Linked DNA regions of Homo sapiens. The protein of the gene in region 2 interacts with the protein of the main gene of each other region in a biochemical or structural test. Each region holds a gene or a part of one and is shown on either strand. Other genes may lie near its edges.

Evidence for each region.
Region 1: the proteins of KAT2B (region 2) and IRF2 form a complex in vitro, tested with the Homo sapiens proteins (2 studies listed by BioGRID, with this or other methods).
Region 3: the proteins of KAT2B (region 2) and MAPK14 form a complex in vitro, tested with the Homo sapiens proteins (one study listed by BioGRID).
Region 4: the proteins of KAT2B (region 2) and PLAGL1 form a complex in vitro, tested with the Homo sapiens proteins (one study listed by BioGRID).
Region 5: the proteins of KAT2B (region 2) and TTF1 form a complex in vitro, tested with the Homo sapiens proteins (one study listed by BioGRID).
Region 6: the proteins of KAT2B (region 2) and SMAD2 form a complex in vitro, tested with the Homo sapiens proteins (one study listed by BioGRID).
Region 7: of the proteins of KAT2B (region 2) and RPS6KB2, one has a biochemical effect on the other in vitro, tested with the Homo sapiens proteins (one study listed by BioGRID).

What each region holds. Positions count from the first base shown.
Region 1 is NC_000004.12:184,464,551-184,468,050, forward strand, and holds part of IRF2 (interferon regulatory factor 2), read right to left. Parts: intron 1-3,500. UniProt on the Homo sapiens protein: Specifically binds to the upstream regulatory region of type I IFN and IFN-inducible MHC class I genes (the interferon consensus sequence (ICS)) and represses those genes. Also acts as an activator for several genes including H4 and IL7.
Region 2 is NC_000003.12:20,151,675-20,154,904, forward strand, and holds the end of KAT2B (histone acetyltransferase KAT2B), read left to right. Parts: intron 1-657; coding exon 658-851; 3' UTR 852-2,730; downstream 2,731-3,230. UniProt on the Homo sapiens protein: Functions as a histone acetyltransferase (HAT) to promote transcriptional activation. Has significant histone acetyltransferase activity with core histones (H3 and H4), and also with nucleosome core particles.
Region 3 is NC_000006.12:36,104,308-36,107,807, reverse strand, and holds part of MAPK14 (mitogen-activated protein kinase 14), read right to left. Parts: intron 354-3,500; coding exon 180-353; intron 1-179. UniProt on the Homo sapiens protein: Serine/threonine kinase which acts as an essential component of the MAP kinase signal transduction pathway.
Region 4 is NC_000006.12:144,005,460-144,009,421, forward strand, and holds the start of PLAGL1 (zinc finger protein PLAGL1), read right to left. Parts: upstream 2,801-3,962; 5' UTR 2,631-2,800; exon of another isoform or gene 1-2,630.
Region 5 is NC_000009.12:132,396,841-132,400,340, reverse strand, and holds part of TTF1 (transcription termination factor 1), read left to right. Parts: intron 1-82; coding exon 83-306; intron 307-2,014; coding exon 2,015-2,200; intron 2,201-3,500. UniProt on the Homo sapiens protein: Multifunctional nucleolar protein that terminates ribosomal gene transcription, mediates replication fork arrest and regulates RNA polymerase I transcription on chromatin.
Region 6 is NC_000018.10:47,812,160-47,815,659, forward strand, and holds part of SMAD2 (mothers against decapentaplegic homolog 2), read right to left. Parts: 3' UTR 1-3,500. UniProt on the Homo sapiens protein: Receptor-regulated SMAD (R-SMAD) that is an intracellular signal transducer and transcriptional modulator activated by TGF-beta (transforming growth factor) and activin type 1 receptor kinases.
Region 7 is NC_000011.10:67,427,331-67,431,293, reverse strand, and holds the start of RPS6KB2 (ribosomal protein S6 kinase beta-2), read right to left. Parts: upstream 2,801-3,963; 5' UTR 2,749-2,800; coding exon 2,671-2,748; intron 2,313-2,670; coding exon 2,272-2,312; intron 2,175-2,271; coding exon 2,054-2,174; intron 1,768-2,053; coding exon 1,699-1,767; intron 1-1,698. UniProt on the Homo sapiens protein: Phosphorylates specifically ribosomal protein S6. Seems to act downstream of mTOR signaling in response to growth factors and nutrients to promote cell proliferation, cell growth and cell cycle progression in an alternative pathway regulated by MEAK7.

The DNA.
Region 1 (3,500 bases), on a different chromosome or scaffold from region 2:
ATACTTCACTTACCATGAGAATTAGATCTGTAGCCATTTGTGTACATTAAATGCTCTTTTCCAAAAGGATAATAAAACCTCTAATCTCCTCAAGAGGACCAAATAATTTCACCTTGGTTCCCAAGGTGCTGGGAAGACGTATCTCCCTAGGCATGTGTATTTCAAAAAGCATGAAAAACAGACCTTGGAGACATCCCCAGGTTACAAGTGTCTCACATTCTGAAAGGTTAGGATAAGACCCCTGGAACCTTTTCATCCCATGTCAGGGGAGCTAAGGTGTTTGTCTGTTTGGTTTTCCTTTTTCTTCTTCTTTTTTTTTTCTCTCTCTCTCCTTTTGGGACGGGAGAGGGACAGCTGCTCTGTCCCTGTCAACAAAGTGTAGCCCACATGTACATTCCATTAGTTTTCAGTGTCACCTAAGGGTCAAGGTTTAGGGGCCTGACACAATAGTGTCACTCAGGCTGTTGCCCCAGTTGTAAATATCAACAAGGAACTCTTTTCTCCTACCCAGGGGTTTTGTGTTTCTGCAGTATTCATATGTATAAAGAATGTTAACTGTGAAGTGAAATCATATCTCAAGCCCTTCACAGTTACTGACAAAACATTATGTCCCAACCTCACCAAAAAGCCACCAATCTAAGTGTCTCCAAGTAGCCACAGCTGTCTGAGGACAAAGGCTTCCAAGAGCCTGGCCAGGAAAGCCCTGGCTCTAGAGCCTGCTCCACACATGGAGGCAGAAAGGCTCGAGAATGGCCCCGTCCATGCACAGCCTCCTCCTCGGCAGCACCCAGTGTGTTTTTCCTAACCTTACGTGGACCAGAGGTGAGGGCAGAGATGACATATTAGCACTCTCTTGAGAATATTTTTCTGGTTAAAAGGGTAATTGGTAATTGTGCTTGCTGTTTTAAATTTGGAAAATACAAAAATGTTTCAAGAAGGAAAAAAAAAGCCAAACACCCACAATTTCACCATCAAAAAGATATGTTTTCTTCCAGGTTTTTAAAAATACCCCAATATACACATATGTTTTAAAAATAAAACTAGAAGCACAATTTCATATCCTTTTTTCCCCACCCAATCAGCATAGATCATAAATATTTTCCCATCACTAAACGCTGCTCGAAAACACGAGCTTTATAAGCTACCTATAGTCTGTCTGGATGTGCCGTAATTCGTTCAAATGTGTCTCTATTGTTGGATATTTAGCTTGTTTCCAAGTTTTTACATAACAAAAGCTAATTCAATAAACATCCGTGTACATACATCTTTGTTCCCATCTCTGGTTACTTCACGTAAGTAGGTTCCAAGAAGCAGAATTTCTGGAACAGAGAGCTTAACATTTTTAAGACTTTAAGTATATAGCACCAAGGTAAATTCCAGAAAGTTTATTTCAATGTAGAATCCTGACTACAGTCACTGTGGAGTACTCAGTGCCCCACTCAGTGACCCACACTACCCACTTATGGAATTCATAGTTCAGTTTTAACTTGTCCCATCTGGTTGTTTTTTGTTTTTTGTTTTTTTTTTGAGATGAAGTCTCACGCTTGTCACCCAAGCTGGTGCGATCTCGGCTCACTGCAACCTCCGCCGCCTGGGTTCAAGCGATTCTCCTGCCTCAGCCTCCCGAGTAGCTGGGACTACAGGTGCCCGCCACCATGCCCAGCTAATTTTTGTATTTTTAGTAGAGACGGGGTTTCACCATGTTGGCCAGGCTGATCTTGAACTCCTGACCTCAGGAAATCCGCCCGCCTCGGCCTCCCAAAGTGCTGGGATTACAGGCGTGAGCCACCGCGCACGGCCAATCCCATCTGTTCTTTAGGAAAACACATTATCAGCCCATTCTATTTCCCTGATTCCATATTTACCTCCCACAATCTCAATAGCACAATTACATTGATTTATCATTACAAATTACAAATATGAATGCATTAAATTATTACATGTGCCCTGAAAATACATACATCTATTATGTATTATTTCAAGAGTTTAAAAATAAAATAAAACAGTACCAAGGAAGATCAGTACGGGGGGAGAAGGCCTAAGAGAGCTATTACCGTATTTCCGTGGTTGCCTCCAAAGGCAATTTTAGATTGAGTTTGGGGCCTCACATAGTGAGTATCAGTTTCCCCATCCCCAAACAATGCATCAACATCAGCACACTTATACATTCTGAGAAATGCACCATTAAGCAATTTTGTCATTGTGTGAACATCACAGAGTGTACTTACACAAACCTACATGGTATAACCTCCTACACACCCAGGTTTATGGTATGGCCTATGGCTTCCAGGCTGCAAACATGTACTGCAGGTTACTGTACTGAGGACCGTAGGCCACTGTAGCACAATGGCAAGTATCTGTGTATCTAAACATAGCAAAAGGTAAAAGTATGATATTATCATCTTATGGGGCCACAGTCATGTGTATGGCCCATTGATGACCTAAACGTTGTGATGCAGCAACATCACTGTACCCTAAGGTGACTTCAGCCATGTCCAAGTGACAACTACTCACAACTTCATGTTTCCTGGTGGTATAATGTCAGCAGCTGCCTAGCAGTTTTCCCATCAGCCTTTCTCATCCCCAGGATAAAAGGATCTGATCCCACAGTCAGCAGTGGAGGGTCCTCCAGTCTTTCAACTGGTCCTTGAGTTATCACTAATTGCCTAACCAACTTCACCTCACCCCTCCGATCTCTAAAACTCTTTCAGTGACATTTATGCAAAGACAGAAAATCTCCCTGCCTGATTGTCTCTTCACTCTCTCCCATTCAAGAATCCAGGAGTCACTAGTCACCTATTTTCCTTCTCATCACCCCATCCCCCAACTCTCACTTTCCACCAGCCTCCCATTGCTATCCTTTCACCCGACACACCCATCATATCTAGGTGTTAAGACACTCTTATCACCACTGTAATTTTTCTCATCTTTTCCAATAGATCTAGGGTAAAAAGGACAAAAGAATTCTTTCAAAAATAACATGGTAGATATTACTTGAAATAAAGCAATTTGTATGCAGTCCCTCCTCATCTGAAAGGTCAATCTCATGAAATGGGAAAATTGGTAGGATTCTAAGCTTAGGGGGCCAGGACAGCGTATTCTGTCTACAGAGTACTTCTTTGGATCTTCCCAAAATCTGACATTCATAAGAACAATTAAAATGTACACTCAATAAGAACAAATTAAAGTGTATACTCATCTCTCCTTTGATGGCATTAGGTGTGCGAGTATCAAATGCCTTCAGCAGATAGCAACAGTGTTAAGTATGCCCAAATGAAATTATTTATGAAAATCACACAGCAAGTAGTTAATTCTCAAAAATCGTCATTTAATGAAAACAGGACAGGCTTTTATCACACAAAATCCTAAATTAAGGTATTTTGCTGAACTAAATTAGTCTTGCCTTTGGGATAAAAATACTTAGAATCCATCATCAGAAGGAACCTCACACACCTGCTTCTCATCTGCAGCCATTCTTTGTCAACTCCGCTCTTTCTTGC
Region 2 (3,230 bases):
ATTTAAAGCAAGTAGCTATATTGGGAAATATTCTTTGCAATAGTCTCACAAGGCTTACTTGCTTTAGAAAATAGATTATTAAATGAAGTTTGTTATTCTTATTTCATTGATGGAGCTTGAAGCAAATTCATTTGAATCATTTTACATGCAAGGGCACTGGTGTGTTCACAGATGTATTTATTATCAGTTTCTCTATATGACACCAAAACAACTGTGAGTTTAGTGAAACAAATGCAGTCTGATTGTTTTAAGTAATTAAATGATTGAATACAAACGTTCCACCTGCTCTACTCCATATAGATAGAGCCTCTTCTGTATAATTCTGACTGAATAGCTAACAGTAGTCAGTTCATCATACTTATTGTTGCTAATCTACTTAGCTTCCTTGTGCTGAATAGGGGATTGAACCAGATGACTAATAATGGTCCCTTTAATGCTAAAATGGCTGTGATTTTACATTTTTAAAAAACCCACAAAAGAATGAACTTAAGATTTAAGAACTGTTTTCCTTGGTCATAAGAATTTCTCTTAAATAAAAGCATTGGGATGATAAAAATGTAATCAAACCAACAACATAGATTCCTTTCCCAGTCCCAGTTTTGTCAGCTGGTGTTTAAAGGGAGTCAAAGATTGCTAATATTTTTTTTTCCTGTGCAGATCTGAAAACCATGAGTGAACGCCTCAAGAATAGGTACTACGTGTCTAAGAAATTATTCATGGCAGACTTACAGCGAGTCTTTACCAATTGCAAAGAGTACAACCCCCCTGAGAGTGAATACTACAAATGTGCCAATATCCTGGAGAAATTCTTCTTCAGTAAAATTAAGGAAGCTGGATTAATTGACAAGTGATTTTTTTTCCCCTCTGCTTCTTAGAAACTCACCAAGCAGTGTGCCTAAAGCAAGGTGGTTTAGTTTTTTACAAAGAATTGGACATGATGTATTGAAGAGACTTGTAAATGTAATAATTAGCACTTTTGAAAAAACAAAAAACCTCCTTTTAGCTTTTCAGATATGTATTTAAATTGAAGTCATAGGACATTTTTATTTTATGGAATAGATTTTAATCTATTTACTACTATTAAGGTAAATTTTCTATGGCATGTCCATTAGCTATTTCATGATAGATGATTAGGGGTTTCCTCAAAACCTGTGTGTGAGGAAATTGCACACAGTAGCAAAATTTGGGGAAATCCATAACATTTTCAGACCATGAATGAATGTTTCCATTTTTTTCTAATGGAATGTGAGAGTTTACTTTTATTTTATTCTGAAGGACTTTAAGGAAGGGATACATGATTTTAAAAAAGCCTGTAAGAGGTGAAATATGTGATGTTTGAAGTCTCTTTATAGACTTTTTATATATATTTTTTAAAACACTCATCTAGATGAGGTGCTTTGAGCAGTTCTGAAAAATGCAGTTCCAGGAAAGCAACTGCTTTGGTTCCTAAGGAAGAAATTCTAAATAATGCAAACTTTTAAAATAAGCATCTAGGTTTTTGATAATTCTGTCTACTTACAACAAACTTGTTAGTACATAACCACTATTTTAATAATTATTTTCTCTACACAAATGTGTAATATCATATTTGACTTTGCTTATGCAGGCCATAAGTTCCAAAAGATAATTTCCCTGCCCACAAAGGCATAAACTTGAAAACACATGAGATTGAATCAACATGCTTTAATAGGAAAAGATGTATGGTCTATATATGTATCAATCTGGTGAATCCTCGTTCTAATAAAGGTTCTTTTTCTTTTCTATGATACACACAGCCACGCTGATAATATGCAAATGAACATTTTCCTTTATGTCTCTCCAGATAATGTTTATTGTCTGAGGTAAATTAAATTCCCACCAGGGTTTGCTGTCAGTATTTTAACACCCACATTAGTATATGCGTCCAGGGTCATAACCCCCTAAAATCCATCATGCAACCTTATTAATCTGTCTTGGGATTCCAGTTTAGTGCTTGGATTTATTTCCTGATTACACTACATAGAAAAGTGAGACATCTGCCATTCCCAACTCTGGGAAAACCAACTAATATACAACCATATAAATGAAGGCCATCTTGATGGTCTCAACACTAATTTTTATGATGCAAATTTATACACTGATTTTTGTAAAGGACAAAGTTTTAAAAGCGTATTTAACTTGATGTTTTCTATCAGCATAAATAAAATGGTCATGAATAGTCATTAAAAACAGTTGCCAGTGATAATCTGCATGAAGGAAAAAGAACCCTGCAAATGGCTATTGAGTTGGAAGTATTGTTTTTGATATGTAAGAGATATTCAGAATGCTCACACTGAAAATGCCTCAACTTTTTAAAGTGTAAGAAACCACCATGAGTGGTGTCTAGATTTCTAATGAAGAATCATGATACAGTTTGGATTAAGTATCTTGGACTGGTTTTAAACAGTGCTTTGTACCGGATCTGCTGAAGCATCTGTCCAGCTGGTATCCTGTGAAAGTTTGTTATTTTCTGAGTAGACATTCTTATAGAGTATTGTCTTTAAAATCAGATTGTCTCTTCTATATTGAAAGCATTTTTATGTTTTCTAATTTAAAAATTAATATTTTCTTATAGATATTGTGCAATAAAGCTGAAGTAGAATGTGTGGTTTTTGCAAATGCTTTAACAGCTGATAAAAATTTTACATTTGTAAAATTAATATATTGTACTGGTACAAAATAGTTTTAAATTATATTTTAAAAAGCTTCCAATCTTGTGGTGTGTTTTATTCATTCAGTAGGCTGAGGTTAACAGAACAAATTATGATCTGGTTGATAACCATCAATTGAATCCTTAAACCTTAGATCTTAAGCATTCTGTTGCATTTGGGGGAGGTTTCATAAAAAATCCATAGGTCATCAGTAAGAGATTTTCAGGAGAGACACTTACTCTGTCTTTTGAGTTATCCACTGCATCTTACCCACTCACCCGCTAAACAATAACAAAAAAGATTCATTGAAAGAAGAGTGTTGTTGGTTTAGAAATTAAAAGATTTTTGTTTTTATACTTTGCATCTGTGAAATATATATGATGAGAGAAAAATACAGCCGATTTTTAAACATCTCCCATATGAGCTTCTAATGTGATTCAAAATGATGTCTGTAGGAAAGAATACTATATCCTTTTGGGGTTTGAGAGGACCCAACCAAGAGAACCCCTCTTCCCTACTGAAATCTAAACCAACTGAGAAGTTAAAAAAAAAAAAAAAAGG
Region 3 (3,500 bases), on a different chromosome or scaffold from region 2:
TATCTCAAAGGTCCAGAGAGTATCACTGTCTACAACAGTTTCCACCAGAGAACATATTCATTCTGCATTAGAGACCTCATCTACAAGCTTTAGCAAGTTGGTTATGACCATTCAGTTTTTATTTTTCCCACCGCTTTTGGTTAGTGGTTCAAGATGTTAATCCTACCCTTAGGACTTACTTTTCCACTCATCTATAAGGAGGTCCCTGCTTTCAAAGGACTGATCATAAGGATCGGCCACTGGTTCATCATCAGGATCGTGGTACTGAGCAAAGTAGGCATGTGCAAGGGCTTGGGCCGCTGTAATTCTCTTATCTGAGTCCAATACAAGCATCTTCTCCAGCAAGTCGACAGCTATCAGTACCATAGACAGGAAGGAAAAGAGTTTTTAACATGTTACAAAAAAGTATGCCTTATTGAGCAAACATAGTTTTGACCCTTCATATCCAAACAAAGAACTCTCCTCCAAAATACCTACTCTAGGATATATTAGCCCTCTTCTCCTTTATGTGTGTATGTGTGTGTGTGTGTGTGTGTGTATCTGTATTTTCTATGTTTTAAAATTTTTTTATTTTATTTTTGATTTGGGGGTACATGTGCACATTTGTTACATGGGTCTCACCACGGACTGATGGGGACTGGGCTTCTAGCGTGCCCATTAACCAAATAGTGAACATTGTACCCGATAGGTTATCTCTCAACCCTCACCCTCCTCCTGTATTTTGTATTTTTAAAGAATATGTTACTAAAGAAGAATTTTTTTAAATGACTGGGATTCTGTTTGAACAGGCTTTTGTGGACCGTCAATGTCAAACTGCTACCAGTGTAGTCAAACTGTATAAAACAAAGCCTACAGCTGAAGTAACCTACAATAGGTAGGCAGGGCTGTTTTTTTTTTGTCCCCCTAAGCTGTTTATTTACTAACATCAAATATTCATCAACAGATCTTCAAACAGTGAATAAACTGGGGGTTTTACATGGTGATGAGGGTGAGACATGGTATTAAAATCAAAGGGAATTTTATTTTTAAAAATTTCACTATGAAAAATTTCAAATATACAGAAACAGAAAAGTAAAAACTATGATAAAGTGAACACTCATATGCCTAGCATATTCAACAATTAACATTTTTATATTTCTGTATTTATATGTATTTTTTTCTGAACTGTTTTAAAATAAAATTATAGACATGACACTTTACCCTCCCCAAATATTTCAACACGAAGACATCTTCCTATATAATCATAATACTGTTATTATCTCTGACAAATAATTTCTAAATATCATCTAAAATCCAGTTCATGTTAAGATTTCTCCAATTATTCCAACGTTGTCTTTTAGAACTAGTTTGTTGAAACCAGGATTCAATTAGGGGCCATGCACTGCAACTGACTGGTTTTCTTTAGTCTCTCTTAGTCTAGAATAATCTTCTTACTTCTAAGCCCTGTTCTTTCCTGATTTTGATCTAAAGAGACCCTCTGATTGTCCTGAGAATGACCGTTTCTCGGGATGTGTCTGATTTTGCTTCTTTTGCTGTCATGTGTCTATACCCTGCTTTCCACTATCCCCTGTACTTCCCAAAAACCGGAAGTTAGGTCAAAAATTTTGGTAAGAATCAGGTTAAACATTTTCAGCAAAAATACAGGTGATGCTGTGCACGTGACAGTGCATTAAGGCCATCTGTCCCACTACTAATGAGCTAAAATTGATCACTGGGTTAAGATGTTTCCCCTTTGACCAAAGCAAGTAATCTGCGGGATATTTTGGTACCAAGTAAATATCCATTCTTTTCACTTATGGCTTTCTGCATTCACTGGGTTTCCTTCCCAAAAGCAATTATTTCATAAGGGGTTACAAAATGGTAATTTGTCTAACTCTATATTTCAAATGAGTATTTTTGTGTTTCAGCATGGTGGCACTTGGGAGAATAAATACTGCCATATAACCAGTTATCACTGTGGTGAAAAAGGCTTTTGAGACTTTGCAAATTACTCCTTAAATGTGGAGGGTGTGGGGGTGAGTAGTGAAGAGGACAGCTTCCTATAGAGATCTACTGCTGTGTATATTGGAGGCTGTAAAACACCCGTCCTACAGCTTGAATTCCAGAGTAATCCACTGGAGAAATATGGGCTTCAAGGGGATACAGAAACAAAGTAAATATTCATGTGTCAATTCAAGTTCATAAGTTTACACTTTACAGTACTAGGTGAATGCCTGGATTATATATATATATATTCTTCTGATGGTCTTCTCTTCTTAGAAAAAGAAACCTTATCAGCTGTTGATTTTATAATTGAACACAGATTATACGACAAGTCTCTGTTACCCTTAGGGTAAAAAGGACCATGTTCTTATAACCAATAAGGTCAGGGGCAAGAACAAATTCCTCAAAGATCTTATTAGCTGGGCATGGCATTATGTGCCTGTTGTCTCAGCTACTTGGGATAGGGAAGAGGAAGGATCACTTAAACACAAGAGTTCGAGGTTATCATGAACCGTGACTGTGCCACTGTACTCTAACCTGGGTGACAGAGTGAGATGCCATCTCTTAAAAAAAAAAAATCTTGACAGATAAATACATACACTAACATCAAGGGGTAATTTAAGTTTTAATTCATGTTTTGGGAATAGCAGTGAAACAAAGTCAGTGGCTGACAAAACAGAGCTGTTAATATTTATATTTCTGGCATGTTCCTGCTCAGTTAATATGCTGGGCACGAGCTTGTGATAGTAACACTGTGCTCCATCTGCCCAGCAAGGGGAGCCTCATTATATGACATCACTGTTTGGCAATGGGCTGTAAGGCACGTTTAAATGCTGAGAAGTACAGTGCTGAGCACCAGATGGACCAAAGCCTCCTTTCAACTCATTAGCAAAGTGGTATCTAGTTCTTTTGGAGGTTTCAATGTCATGATTTCAAAGAATGGGAAGACCTATCAGGAGGTATGTGACCTAAATAAGCTGCTGGAACACAAATATCTCCCCTCTCCCCCTAAAAAATGAATTAACACATCTTTCTGAGTCTGTTAAGAGGGTGTCAGTGAGTACTGCCCTGTTCAAAACTTAAGGCTTATAAAATGAAACAACTTCAGAACAGAATGACGACAAGAAAGAACACGACGGGCTGGGTGCAGTGGCTCATGCCTGTAATCCCAGCACTTTGGGAGGCCGAGGCGGGCAGGTCACGAGGTCAGGAGATCGAGACCATCCTGGCTAACACGGTGAAACCCCGTCTTTACTAAAGATACAAAAAATTAGCCAGGTGTGGTGGCACACACTTGTATTCCCAGCTACTCAGGAGGCTGAGGCAGAAGAATCACTTAAAGCCGGGAGGTGGAGCTTGCAATGAGCCGAGATCGCACCACTGCACTCCAACCTGGACGACAGAGCGAGACTCTGTCTCAAAAAAAAAAGGAAAGAAAGAACACAACATCTTTTCCCAACATCCTGTAGTACTTAAGGCTCAAAGAGAGCTTCTCACAGACCCTTGAACTAGATAAT
Region 4 (3,962 bases), on a different chromosome or scaffold from region 2:
ATTACCTTTTCATGTGGGAATCTGAAAATTAATTAAGCTTGATCTCATAACATAAAATATATACATCTCAATATATACATGTCTCAGGTAAATTAAAGAACAAAATGTGGACAAAACATAAACTTAAAAATTCTTAGAAAAATATTCAGAATACATTTCATTAATAGTAGAGTATCTTAAGACAAAAAGCATAAGGATTAATGTCTACAGTTTAATATCTGCAAGTATATAACAAATATTTGTATCCAGAATGTTTTCCAATATAAATTTCTGCAATGATGGAAATATTCTGTTCTATAATGTATAATGTAAAATATATAACATAATAAAATATAATAAAATATTAAAGTCATATGAGGCTATTGAGCACTAAAAATGTGGCCTGAAAGAACTGAGGAACAGAAATTATTGAGGTAAATACAATATGTTAGCATTTTAAAACGCTGAAAGTCTGTAAAGTTCTGTGATTTTTATATACTTTTTAGTATTTCGTTTTTCATAACAAAATTTGATTTTAGCTAAAATTACTATATAAAATATTCCAGTTGTGTACAAAACATGTAAATGTGACTTTTGGGAAAGCAAACACACCAAATGATGTTTTCTCCTAAATGCTTTTTGAAATATTATAAATTAAGTTATAAGAATACATAAAGAATAATTTAATGAATACTGGTATGTCCACCATGGAATTTATGAAATAAAACATTACTGATAAATTCCCTAGGTACTCCTCCCTGAGCAAGATTTTTTTTTTCTAAAAAGAAGCCAGGAAATAAGAATAACAGACGGAGAGCCCTAGACTCAGGCTTCTTCAGTTTGCAACACCCATATTTTAACATATTTGGGGGGAAATGTAACATTCAAACCCAGTGTGTATCATTTAACAAAGAGTTACAAAGCAAACACCCATGTAACCATTGCACAGGTCAGGCGATAAAGCATTTCCAGCATCTCTGAGCCCCTGACCCTCTCCTCCCCACTAGGAGATGACCATTAGCTTGACTTTTTTTCTTTACTACTTTTAATGCCTATACATGCATCCCTAAACAACAGCTTTGCTCCACCAGGTTCTGAATTTTACATAGAAGATATCACACAGCATTCTCCGGCAACTTTTTTTTTTTTTGGTTCAACACTGAAAGGCATTTGTGTTGAAACACAAAAATACTTCATTGGCCACTGTACAGTGTGCCCTTTTTATGAGTGGTGTATAATTTATCTTTCTCCTTCAGGTAGGCATGAAGGCGGCATCCAGTTTTCTGCCATTACAGTCAACCTTCTTGTACACGTCTGCTTGTGGACATGTATTAAAATTTATCTAGGGCAGTGGCTTTCAAACTTTTTTGTCCATGACTCATACTAAGGAATGACGTTTTACATCATGACACACATTTGTGTATGTATGAAACTGAGGAGGGGGAGAGAGATTCATAAAGCGAACACCCCTATGACCTGAGAGACACTGATGTTCTATTCTCCGTCTGTGTTTTACAAATTCTGATCATCCATTTAAATGACTTTACGACCCACTAAAATGGACTTCAAATTCTGAAAAACATTGTTCTTAAGGATGAATACCCAGGCGTGCAACTGCTGGATCAGGAAACACGGACATCGGACGTCGTCAACTTTTCCAGATCCTTAACTGTTAAATGTTCTTATCTAAGCGCATATAAATTTACCACTATTTAACTTCAGAGCGAAAAGCGTGAAACATCAGAGAACATTTTATCTTTTCCCTCGGTCATTAAACAGTATTAATCACTTACCATGTGCTAAGTAAGCAATCTCTGAGCCCAGCGAGACCGGTGGGTTAATACGCGGAGGGGCTGCGGGGGAGGACTTAGGGGACCAGGACCTCAGTGAGGCCCCAGAAAGCACCCGGGAGGGGCCTCCGATCCTGCCTGGGAGGGAGGGGTTAGAGGAGGATTCCTGGAAGAAGGAGGACCTAAGCTGGGTGTTTCTATTTTTGATTTTTATTGGTTTCCTAAAACATGAAAGTAACACATTTGATGAGAAAAAATATTCAAAATTACAGGAGTATATTCAGTAAAAGGTAGAAATCCCCATTCCGCCCTGAAAGTTGGATGCGGAGACTAACAGAAGTCGCATTATCAGCTGTCCCGATCTAGGAAATTTTTAGGACCCCACGTTTTTAAATACTTTTAAGAGTATGTCTGATACAGTCTGTAATACTAAAGCATCAAAATAATCATATTTTCCATAAGAGACGAAAGTGCAAACAGTTACTGTCTAGTCCCATTATTACTTGGAACAGACTTTTTCTTCTTTTCCTTGTTCTGTTTTTTTCCTGGCCCGTTGGCGAGGTTAGAGCGCCAGGTTGTAAGAATCGGGTCTGTGGACCTCATACCAGATAGGCGCGAACGCCTCTGGCAGCGGCGTCCAGGGGGTCCGGCGGCACTCGCGGTGGGGCTGCCTGGGTTGCGGGTGACGATCTGCGGGGTCCCGCACCCGGCCCCGCGGAGCCCGGACCCGCACGTAGGCGGCGCGGCAAAGGCACACCCTCCTCGCGGCCGCGAACCCAGCGCCGTCCTCGCAGCGCGGCAATGCACGGCCACCGCTGCCCCCAGCCCGCCCGCCGCAGCCGCGAGCACCCAAACACCTACCCTGCGGGGCGACGACCCCCGGAGCTCAGGCGAGGCCGCTCGGGCGTGCCACCTCCGCGGCCATGACGGCGACCCGGGGAAGCGCCCCGCGCGCCAAGGCCCCGCGCTGCTGAGCTGTGAGCACGGCTGCCCCGTCCGTCCGTCCGTCCAGCACCCGCCCGGAGAGTGAGGCCAGAGCACGCCCCAGCCGTGTCTAAATCAAGGCTCGGGGCGGTACCGACGGGCTGAATGACAAATGGCAGATGCCGTGGGCTTTGCCGCCCGCGGCAGCCAAGAGGATGGCTGCGCCGAGGAGGCCGCGCGCAGGCGGGGCTCGGGAGCCGGAACGGCGCGGCCGCGAGGAGGGCGCTGGGGCCCCTGGCGGGGGCGTCACGTGGCAGGAGGAGGCCCCGCCGGGGAGCTGGGGGTCGGCGGCCGAGGCGGGGGGAGCTGAGCGGCACCCACACGTCCTGCGGGCCGGGTCACCGGTGGGGGCAAAGCCAAGGTCGCCCAGGTACAGCGCTGGCGCAGGTAGACCCGAGCCGGCCTGGGGTCTGCAGCGGGGCCTGCTAGCCGAAGTCTCCGCCAGGATGGGCCGCCAGAGCCCAATCACACATGAGAAACGCGACAGATGCTGGGACGCTGCAATAGGCCAAACTAACTTACCTCCTGTGCCAGCAGCGCCCAAGTGCAGCTGCCCAAACGTGAGCACTGACCGTGAGCCAGGCACTGTCCTAAGCACTTTGCAGGTAAATACGTGTAATCCTCACAGCAACACTGGGAGAAATACCCGTCTCACAGCTGAAGAAACGAAGACGCAGAAAGGGTAGACAGAAGTAATTTTCTAATTACGGTATCACACTACGTCTGCTTCATATAATTTCAAATTTTTCATGTTACTGGAATTTAAGAAAAATAAACTGAAGGGAATCTCTATTGCTTTCTTCCCTAAAAGACGTGCTTTTTAAAAGGCCTATAAGCATTACGTAAAAAGATTAAGAGAGGTGTAAGGAGCTCACTACATGTTCGGGTTTAGAAAGTCTCATAGCTCTGAAAGATGAGGTTAATTAGCATCATACACCTCCACCTACCTTTAGGGGGTAACCCTGCCTCTCAATTTCCATTAGTTCTGTTACTTTCGGCTTCCTAGCAATGAGAACATTTGCAATTGCTCTGCAACTTTATTTTTCCAGATGTTGTCTTAATTCTATCTTTAAATGAATTTGATATTCACTGTAACTTATCTATCCCTGAATTTTTATTTTTATTTAGTTCTTGATGGACTTCCTTCATTTTCAAGTCATATTCCTAAGGAGGGTTTATAGAGTGCTGCCATGTTTGAGAAGATCTGGT
Region 5 (3,500 bases), on a different chromosome or scaffold from region 2:
GAAAAAAAAGAAGGAAAAATTTTAAAGTTATGAGGTCAAGTGATGTGTTAATGTTAGTCAACCCAATTTTCTAACCCCTTAGGTTAGAACCTGCAAATGAAGAACACAATGTGGAAACAGCTGAAGATTCCGAAATAAGATACTTATCTGCAGATTCAGGAGATGCCGATGATTCAGATGCGGATTTGGGTTCTGCCGTGAAACAGCTTCAGGAGTTCATTCCTAACATCAAGGACAGGGCCACCAGCACAATCAAGCGGATGTACCGGGACGACTTGGAACGGTTTAAGGAATTTAAAGCACAAGGTGAGCTTGTGGGGCCTTAGTGTTTGTTGAACTTCCTGTATGCAGAGCTAGCACCTAACTTTCTTTTATGGATGATTCAGATTTATAGATCGACAAGAAGCATTCTTTCTCCTCCTTCACCTCTATCTCCTACCAGAATTGTCCAAGCTGTAAAATTAGCAAAATAAAGTGCACTTGCTTTTCCTCTTCTTGCCCAGTTTCTGGTAAAGGTGGCCAGGAAGAATGGGGCTAAAGAGACCAGATAATTAATTCCCACTAAGAAGAGAAGGGACGAGAGGTTAATTGGTTGAGACACTGGAAATGATACAACAGTTATATAAAATTAAAATGCTGTCAAATTAAAATCAACTTTAATGAGGTATCGTTTCTTTCTCCAAGATATTAAATTGATGGTGAGCCAGTTGTGGTAGACTTGATCACCTTCTTGATTTCACTGTGTTTCTGAACCTCTCTTATTAAGAATTATTATTATTAAGAATAATAAATAACCTTTATTATTCTTAAATCCAATAATAAAGCTTATTGGGTTTAAGAATAAACTGCAAATTTAAGGCTGTATACTACAAATGAGCAATATTTACTGAGTATCTGTTGTGTGAGACCCAATACAACTGGTCATTGAAAAAAGTAAAAAGAGGAGTCATAACCTTCCAGAATTAATGGGATTGAAGAGATTCAGAAAAATAGACAAGACAAATTAAGCAAAAAAGACAGCACTACCCACGTACACACAATTATAGAGTGGTATAGAATCCCATTTTGGTGTATTGTGTTGAAATTTTTATGAGTATGTATTTCATAAAAGACTTTTTTTTTTTTCTTTTTTTTTTTTTTTTGAGACAGAGTCTTGCTCTGTAGCCCAGGCTGGAGTGCAGTGGCATGATCTCGGCTCACTGCAACCTACGCCTCCTGGGTTCAAGTGGTTCTCCCACCTCAGCCTCCCAAGTAGCTGGGACTACAGGCGCCTGCCACCAAGCCCAGCTAATTTTTGTATTTTTAGTTGAGATGGGGTTTCACCATATTATTGACCAGGCTGGTCTCAAACTCCTGACCTCATGATTCGCCTGTCTCGGCCTCCCAAAGTGCTGGGATAACATGCATAAGCCACTGTGCCTTGCCCATAAGATATTTTTAAAGTAAACCTAGGCCAAGTGAGGTGGCTCACACCTGTAATCCCAGCACTTTGGGAGGCCAAGGCAAGAGAATTGCTTGAGGCCTGGAGTTTAAGACCAGTCTGGGCAAAACAGCAAGACCCCGTCTTACAAAAAATAAAAAATTAGCCAGGTGTCACACACACCTGTAGTCCCAGCTACTCGGGAGGCTGAGGCAGGAGAATCACTTGAGCCCAGGAGTTCAAGGTTGCAGTGGACTTTGATCATGCCACTGCACTCCAGCCTGGGTGAAAAAGCAAGACCCTATCTCTAAAGAATGCATAAATAAATTTGAAAACTATTTTTTAAAAAGATAGATTAAACAGGAAAGGTCACTTTGGAATAGGATGACCCGGGAAGACATTGACAGAAGAGGTGTGGCTTGGGCTGAACCCTGAAGGAAAGGCCAAATCTGCAAGTGCGGGCAGGAGGGCGAATGTCAGGTGTTGGGACTGTTGGGCCGAGGTACTGTCATTGCTGATGAAAAACCAAGTCATAGGTTTGCTTTTGTCATTATTAACAATACACACTTTCTCCCTGTTCCTTCCCAATTCTAGGTGTCGCTATTAAATTTGGCAAGTTTTCTGTAAAGGAAAATAAGCAGTTAGAGAAAAATGTGGAAGACTTTCTAGCCCTGACAGGCATTGAGAGTGCAGACAAGCTGCTGTACACGGACAGATATCCTGAGGAAAAATCTGTGATCACCAACTTAAAAAGGAGATACTCGTTTAGATTACACATTGGTAAGTTTAGAAACAATCACCCTTTGACCATCCACAGCCTTCCAGCCATAAACAAGATAACCCATGGTAAGTGTTAGCACGGTACCTGGCCCATTGCCTGCAGGCGGCGCACATTAACTGCTGTGATGGCTGATGATATTCTTTTTTTTTTTTTTGAGACGGAGTCTTGTTCTGTTGCCCAGGCTGGAGTGCAGTGGTGCAATCTTGGCTCACTGCAACCTCCACCTCTGGGGTTCAAGTGATTTTCCTGCCTCAGCCTCCTGAGTAGCTGGGACTACAGGTGCCCACCACCACGCCCAGCTAATTTTTTGTATTTTTAGTAGAGACGGGGTTTCACCTTGTTAGCCAGGATGGTCTCGAACTCCTGACCTCGTGATCCGCCTGCCTCGGCCTCCCAAAGTGCTGGGATTACAGGCGTGAGCCACCGCGCCCAGCCCTGATGGTATTCTTATTGCCAGTCTGTACTTTCTGGGATTTGGAATGTGTTCATGTCTCCCAAGTTTAGGGTGAAAAATTAAATGATCAACTTTTACCTTTCTTCCTTGGCAATAGTTGTGGTTTTGGTTTCTCCTCCTGTTCCTTATTTATATTTTGTGTACGCTACACAAAGCACATCCTTATACGCACCATGGTCTCCCGTGTTTTTTAAGTGTGGCCATATGTGTGCTTTGTAACTGGAACCCTCCGACTGGAGGTGCTGCCTGTGAAGTTAGAAGGTCATGCTGTCATATGGGATCAGAGCGAAAGCAAATCTCTCTTGAATTTAAAGAGGATAATTTCTTAGGTGTTGTGTGGAATCCACGAAGAAAAGCAGGCTAGTACGCCCCCGTTGAGGGATTATTTCCCCTTAGAGTGAGAAAGTGAGAAAAGCTGATTTGGGAAAGATTATTGTTCATCTTCTGGAAAACTGTTACCCTGTATTCTCCACCGCAGTGTTCTCTTCCTCTTAATTCACATTATCTTAAAACTACTTTGCCTCTTAAGGATTCTTTCCACAAATTGCATAGACCGGAAGCTGAAGCCTCAGGGTACTAAGCATTTAGTTTTCGGAGATCTCCAAGGAAACTGGTGATTGTGTGTATCTGCTCTTCAAGACAGCTTTCTTAGGCCGGGCGCGGTGGCTCATGCCTGTAATCCCAGCACTCTGGGAGGCCGAGGAGGGCGGATCACCTGAGGTCAGGAGTTCAAGACCAGCCTGGCCACCAAATGAACCTGGCCAGCTGGTTCATTTGGTGAAGCAGCCTTCACCAAATGAAACAGCCTGGTTTCATTTAGTGAAACCCCGTCCCTACTAAAAATA
Region 6 (3,500 bases), on a different chromosome or scaffold from region 2:
GAGGTAACTGAATCATGGGGGTGGGTCTTTCCCGTGCTGCTCTTGTAATAGTGAATAAGTCTCACGAGATCTGATGGTTTTATAAAGGGGAGTTCCCCTACACAAGCTCTCTCGCCTGATGCCATGTAAGATGTGTCTTGCTCCCCCTTCACCTTCTGCCATAATTGTGAGGCCTCCCCAGCCATGTAAAACTGTGAGTCAATTAAACCTCTTTTATAAATTACCCAGTCTCCGGTATCTCTTTATTAGCCGCGTGAGATCAGACTAATACAGCTGGGGAGGCCTCAGGAAACTTACAATTATGGCAGAAGGGGAAGCAGGCACCTTCTTCACAAGGTGGCAGAAGAGAGTGTGAGTGTGTGAAAGTACAGGAAAAACTACCATTTATAAAACCATCAGATCCTGTGAGAATTCACTATCATGAGAACAGCATGGGAGAACCACCCCCATAATACAATTACTTCCTTCCCTCAACATGTAGGGATTACAATTCAAGATGAGATTTGGGTGGGGATGGAGACCCAAACCATATCAGAGCTCATAACTTAAGTGGTGGTAATCAAATCTAAAGCACATTTTATAGCACACACACTCGCTATTCCAAGGTTCCTTTCATGAGTGTCCATGTCACTGTCTCCCCAGGACCCCCACAGGAGCCTTGCACAGGTATCTCATGAACATCCAAGTACCACTTCTTGTAGGAAGCAGGGGTAACTTTCAATAGGGGTGGTTAAGGAAGACTCTGCAGAGAGGATGGAATTTAAACTGGGTTCTGGCCAGGCAGGGTGACTCACACCTGTAATCCCAGCAGTTTGGGAGACCAAGGCAGGTGGATCACCTGAGGTCAGGAGTTTGAGACCAGCCTGGCCAACATAGTGAAACCCTGTCTCTACCAAAAATACAAAAATTAGCCAGGTGTGGTGGCGGGCACCTGCAATCCCAGCTACTCAAGAGGCTGAGGCAGAAGAATTGCTTGAATCCAGGAGGCAGAGGTTGCAGTGAGTCAAGACTGTGCCATTGCACTCCAGCCTGAGTGATGAAACTTGGTCTCAAAAATAACTAAATAACTAAATAAAATAAACTGGGTCCTTATTTTTAGAAAAGGATCTCACTTTGTCATCCAGGCTAGAGTGCAGTAGCACAAACATGGCTCATGAAGCCTCGACTTCCTGGGCTCAAGCAATCCTCCCACCTCAGCCTCTCAAGTAGCTGGGACTACAGGTGCCTGCCACCATGCCCAGCTAATTTTTTTTTTTTTTTTTTTTGAGATGGAGTCTTGCAATGTCACCCAGGCTGGAGTGCAGTGGCGCAATCTCGGCTCACTGCAACCTCTGCCTCCCGGGTTCATGCGATTCTCCTGCCTCAGCCTCCCGAGTAGCTGGGATTACAGGCACACACCACCACACCCGGCTAATTTTCTGCATTTTTAGTACAGATGGGGTTTCACTATGTTGGCCAGACTGGTCTCAAACTCGTGACCTCATGATCCACCTGCCTCGGCCTCCCAAAGTGCTGGGATTACAGGCATGAGCCACTGTACCCGGCCCCACAATTTTTTTTTTTTTTTTTTTTTGGAGAGATGGGATCTTGCTATGTTGATCAGGCTGGAAACCTGGGTCTTGAATAATGGATACATTTGGAAGTGCAGAGCAAAGGCCAGAGAGATATCCAAGCCAGAGAGATATCCAAGGCAGAACAAAGCTCATAATTTAACAAGAAAGGTAGGCATAGATAGGCCTAATTATGATGAATGCTCTCTTACCAGTATAAACAAATTACAAAGGGAGTGATGAGAAGAGGCAATGAAGTTTGGGGAGGGAAAGAAAAGTCTGTGGTGGAGGTGATAACCTGAACTTGGCTTTGAGGAATAAAGAGTTTTATATCAGGGCATCAAGAGAAGGATATTCAAGGTACTTAGGACCAGAACAGGCAAAGGCACTGAAGCAAGAGAGTCTGGGGCAAGAATGTCTCTATTGGGTCAAGACTTTGACAATATTAAAGATTCCATTTTCTTCATATATGCCCCCCTGCTGTCTTTCCAATAAAGGTAAGCCCTGAAGCCTGACAGTCACAGGAAAGGAGAGGGTGTGTACTAGAGTAACAGCACAGTTGCTACTCAGCTGTGAATCTCAGAGCCTGCCTTTATTATCTTGATTATTCTTTGGCATCTCTAGGAAGATGATAAGTAGTCTTCAAAGTCAGACTTTACTGAGAATGAGAAGGGAGTTCTACATGCTAAGAGCTCCATTCACATACTAAAAGCAAAGCTTGGACAACTGAACATGAGTTTTACTCCTAACCATGGATAAGAGAAACTGAGAATACGATGTGAGAAGAGTCTCTTCATTAGGCAGGAGTGGAATGACTCCCAGGGCAGGGAGAGATTGATTGAGATTGCAATTGCCCTGTTGGGAAATAAACGGAAACTTCAGGATGGGTATGCGAGTCTTGGAGCAGCAGGGTTAGTCAACTACTTTCCTGGCATAGCCTGGGGAAGACTGCAAGCCACTCAAAAAAGTCCTACTCATGACTTAGAGGCTTACCCAGTATGGCACAGGAGCACTAGCTCAGCATTGGTGGAAGGAGGTGTCTAGTCAGTCTGAGAAAATGTTGGCTTCCCAAAGCTTGAGCAAGATGTTCAGTACATCCCAAAGTTCCAACATCATCCCTTCCCACCCACTCCAAAGCCCAGCAGATTAACAGTCCCATAGTTGGGACATGGAAGCTATTAAGGTAGAGACCTTGAGACCAAAGGCAATGACAGAGTTGTGGTCAGGAGCAGGGCATGACAGCAGTGAACAAAAGCCAGGGACCCACTTACATTACCCAGTAGACTCAGTGACATCCAGCAAAGATGGCAGGATGAGCACCAGCAGCAGGACCGTCAAGGACCTCAGCACATACATTAGAGAAACTCTTTCCTGTGTCACCTGGAGATGACTGTTCTCACCCACTAGATGCCATCATGAGGAAGAAGCTAGGAAGAACCTTTGAAAAGCTGAGCATTTATCCAAAGAGATGGTTTTAAGCCTGAGATAGGCTATTTGAATCGAAAGAGAACGTTATCTTTGATTGGCAAGTTTAAGGCCATCCACCTCGTCCCACACCTTCCCAAAACCAGATGGGATGCATGAGAAATTGATGTGAAATGAAGGAACTGTAACTTCTTTTCTGCATGATCTGAGTTTTAATGTGTGGGAGCTGGGAAGAGGGAAGAACATTGATAGAAAATCTGAAAGCCCACAGGGAATGTGGTCTAAAGCAGAGGTTTAAGTCCTGGCTGATAATCATTTTGGGTTTTCTGAAAATGCAGATCCCAGTGCTCCAATTCCAGACCTGCTAAAGCAGAATCTCACAATTGAGGCCAGGGAACCTACATTTTAGAAGCTCTCCTTCTGACTCCAATTTGGAAACCATTTATTTAACCACTAGTACAAAAACTGGCCTTGAATAAGACATCACTTCCTCCAAGTCTGAGTACAGCACGCAAGGGCAACTGC
Region 7 (3,963 bases), on a different chromosome or scaffold from region 2:
CTCTAGGAGGCCAAGGCAGGCGGATTACCTGAGGTCAGGAATTTGAGACCAGCCTGGCCAACATGGTGAAACCCCATCTCTACTAAAAATAGAAAAATTAGCTGGGTATGATGGTACACGCCTGTAATCCCAGCTCAGGAGGCTGAGGCAGGAGAATCGCTTGAACCCAGGGGCAGAGGTTGCAGTGAGCTGAGATCACGCCACTGCACTCCAGCCTGGGTGACAGAGCGAGACACTATCTCAAAAAAAAAAAAAAAAAAAAAATGGGGGCAACCAGAGCTCCTCAGACCATCCATCTGTTTGTTAACTGCTGCATCCTCTGTCACTGCATTGTATTTCTCCATAATTCTGCTGCTGTCAGCCACCATCATTTTCAGGGATGGGTTTATCCTCTAACACAGGGTTTCTCAACCTCGGCACTACTGACACCTGGGACCAGGTCATTCTTTGTTGTGGGAGGCTGCCCTGCGCATCGTGGGATGTTCAGCAGCATCCCTGGTCTCCACCCACCGGGTGCCAGTAACACTCCCCTCTTGCCTTGACAATCAAAAATGTGTCCATGCCAGGCGCAGTGGATCACACCTGTAATCCCAGCACTTTGGGAGGTTGAGGCAGGCGAATCACCTGAGGTCAGGAGTTCGAGACCAGCCTGACCAACATGGTGAAACCCTGCCTCCACTAAAAAGTACAAAAACTAGGCCAGGCACGGTGGTTCATGGCTGTAATCCCAGCACTTTGGGAGGCCAAGGTGAGCGGATAGCCTGAGGTCAGGAGTTCAAGACCAGCCTGACCAACATGACAAAAACCCATCTCTACTAAAAATACAAAAAAAAAAAATTAGCCAGGAGTGGTGGTTCACGCCTGTAATCCCAGCTACTCAGGAGGCTGAGGCAGGAGAATCACTTCACCCTGGGAGGTGGAGGTTGCCAGTGAGCCGAGATCGCACCACTGCACTCCAGCCTGAGTGACAGAGTGAGACTCCGTCTCAAAATAAGTAGGTAAACAAATAGAAATACAAAGATTAGCCAGGTGTGGTGGCACAAGCCTGTAGTCCCAACTACTCAGGAGGCTGAGGTAAGAGAATTACCTGAACCCGGGAGGCAGAGGTTGCAGTGAGCAGAGAGTGCACTACTGCACTCCAGTCTGGGGAACAAAGCAAGACTCCATCCAAAAAAAAAAAAAAGCTAGGGACGGTGGCTCATGCCTGTAATCCCAGCTCCCAGCACGTTGGAGGCCAAGGCGGGCAGATCACCTGAGATTAGGAGTTAGAGACCAGCCAGGCGAAACCCCACCTCTACAAAAAAGTACAAAAATTAGCTGGGTGTGGTGGCAAGCGCCTGTAATCCCAGCTACTCCGGAGTCTAAGGCACGAGAATCGCTTGAACCTGGGAGACAGAGGTGGCAGTGAGCCAAAATCGCGTCACTGCACTCCAGCCTGGGTGACAGAGCAAGACTCCGTCTTAAAAAAAAATAAAATAAAATAGTGTCCAGACACTGTTGTCAAATGTCTGCTGGGAGTCAAAATTGCCCCCATTGAGAATTACTGCAAGACAATACACATCACAACAGACAATAAACCAGCAAACGCCAAAGTCAGGGATCCTCCTCCACTGTGTTCCCTGCTGTCTTCCCAAAGCCTGGTACAGCATGTTGGGAATGGCAGCCACACAGTATTCGTTGGCTGAACGAGTGACTCACCTTCCTTAGGACTTTCATGGCATATATTTTGCCCAAGTTGGTGCCTTGCACCTTTCGCACCTGGAACACCTGTAGGGCAGGGGAGACAGGATCAACTTCCCTCTCCACATCCTATCTTCAAGAAGCCCCACCCTGAAGCTCTGGCTTTGGGATCAGGAGGCCTAGGCCCTGCCAAGGGTGGGGCAGTGAAGATTTCAAGTCCGATTGGAGAGGATTTGGCCTTCCCTCCTTTATGTTTCTGGCTCTGAATCCCATTAGAGGCCCTGCTGATTCACAAGTCTAATTTGTTTTGAGAACCCTTTGCTGCCTCCAGATGGAGGCTGTGAGGCCAGGAGGAGGGTGCGCCCGCCCCTACCTTGCCATAGCCCCCCTTGCCCAGCACACGCAGCAGCTCAAAGCAGTGGGGCCCGATGCGCTCTGGGCCAACGTTCACGCTGGTCTCAGTCAGCTCCACCTCTTCATAGTGTCCCACAGGCCTACGGACACAAGGAGTTAATGAGGACAAGGCTCCAGTGCTCCCCAGTTCCCCTTCCCCACTCCATTCCCCCCTCCCCCAACACGACCCTCACTCACTCTAGGCCAGCTGCCCTCAACTCGGCAAGGGGACATGCGTCCTGTGAGAAACCGAGGGGTAAGAGCCAAGGAAGGTGCCAGGATACCTCCCCGCTCCCGTTCAGGTTGGACTGCGTGGCCCAGGAGAGAAGGGTGTCAGGGATGGCAGCTAGTAGGGGATGGGTAAGAATTGGGAAGAAACCGAAGGCAGGAAAGGGAGAATCGGGAGAAAAGGCTGGGGTTCTGGAAGAGAGGTCGGGGTGAGGGTGGGATCAGAACTTAATAGAGACCGGGATCTGAGAAGGATCTGGGTCTGCAAAGAGTCGGAGCCCGCTCTGGGCGTGCGGAGCCGCCGCTCCGGCCTCGGCTGGGTGACAGGATCGGCTCCAGGATCCAGTCGCGCCAGGGCAGGGCACTCACCGCGGGGCTGAGCTCTGGCTCGCCCTCGCCCTCGCTGCCTTCCTCCGTCTCCAAATCCAAATCAAACACGGCCGCCATGGCGGCGCCGGCCCCGCGGGCCCGTCGGCCCGTACCTGGCCGCGCACTGACTGACAGTCCCGGACCTAAACATCATCTCTCCGCGACGGCAGCTGCGCGCGCCGGTGACGCAAGGGATCTTACTCCCCCTCCGGAAAATCGCTTAGCCTGGTGGGGAACAAAGATGGCTTCCGTCGCAAGGCCTCTCGGGAATTGTAGTCCTAGAGTGGCGAGGCGCCTAGCCTTCAGCCTGCAGAATCCTTTCCGCAGGACCCTCGGTCTTCCCAGCAAGGCTTTCTGGGAGCCCGTTTTGGTTCTACGGTGTTTTGAGTTTGGATGGAGCAGGGTCGGAAGTGTATGCAGGTGTGAATGTAAATGCAATCCCCAGCCCTGTTGGAGACGGGTACTGCCAGGCCGGCTGCGTGATGAAAGGCAGGTCGCGTTGCTTTCGGTTCACTCCAGAAAGGGAGGCGGCTGCATCAGGGTCTCCTCAAAGTGCCTCTGGCTCGAGGACCCTGCAAATCGGAGCATTTACTGAGTGGCCAGCTCACTGCCAGGCTATGTTGCCAGGTTCCCGCCTTAAATAGGGTTTTGGGGGTCAGTGATAGACCTGTAAATATGGGATTTTGTTGGCGTTTACTCCCTTCTTAATTTAAGCACATTTAGGCACCTGGTACAGAATAGACACTTCAAAAAACGTTGTTGAGGCCGGACACGATGCCTCACGCCTGTAATCGTAGCACTTTGGGAAGCCAAGTTGGGAGGATCACTTGAGGCCAGGAGTTCAAGGTTACAGTGAGCTATGATGGTGCCACTGCACTCCAGGCTGGGTGACACAGTGAGATCCTGTCTCAAAAAAACAAACAGGCCGGAGGCGGTGGCTCACACCTGTAATCTCAACACTTTCGGAGGCCGAGGTGGGTGGATCACTTGAGGTCAGAAGTTGGAGACCAGCCTGGCCAACATGATGAAACTCTGCCTCTACTATAAATACAAAAAATTAGACGGGTGTGGTGGCGCGCACCTGTACTCCCAGATACTCGGGAGGTTGAGGCAGGAGAATCGCTTGAACTCGGGCGATAGAGGTTGCAGTGAGCCAAGATTGCACCACTGCGCTCCAGGCTGGGCGGCAGAGTGAGACCAAGTCTCAAACAGATAAAACCCGAAAACCTGGCTGGTCACGGTGGCTCACACCTGTAATCCCAGCACTTTGGGAGGCCGAGCCAGGCGGATCAC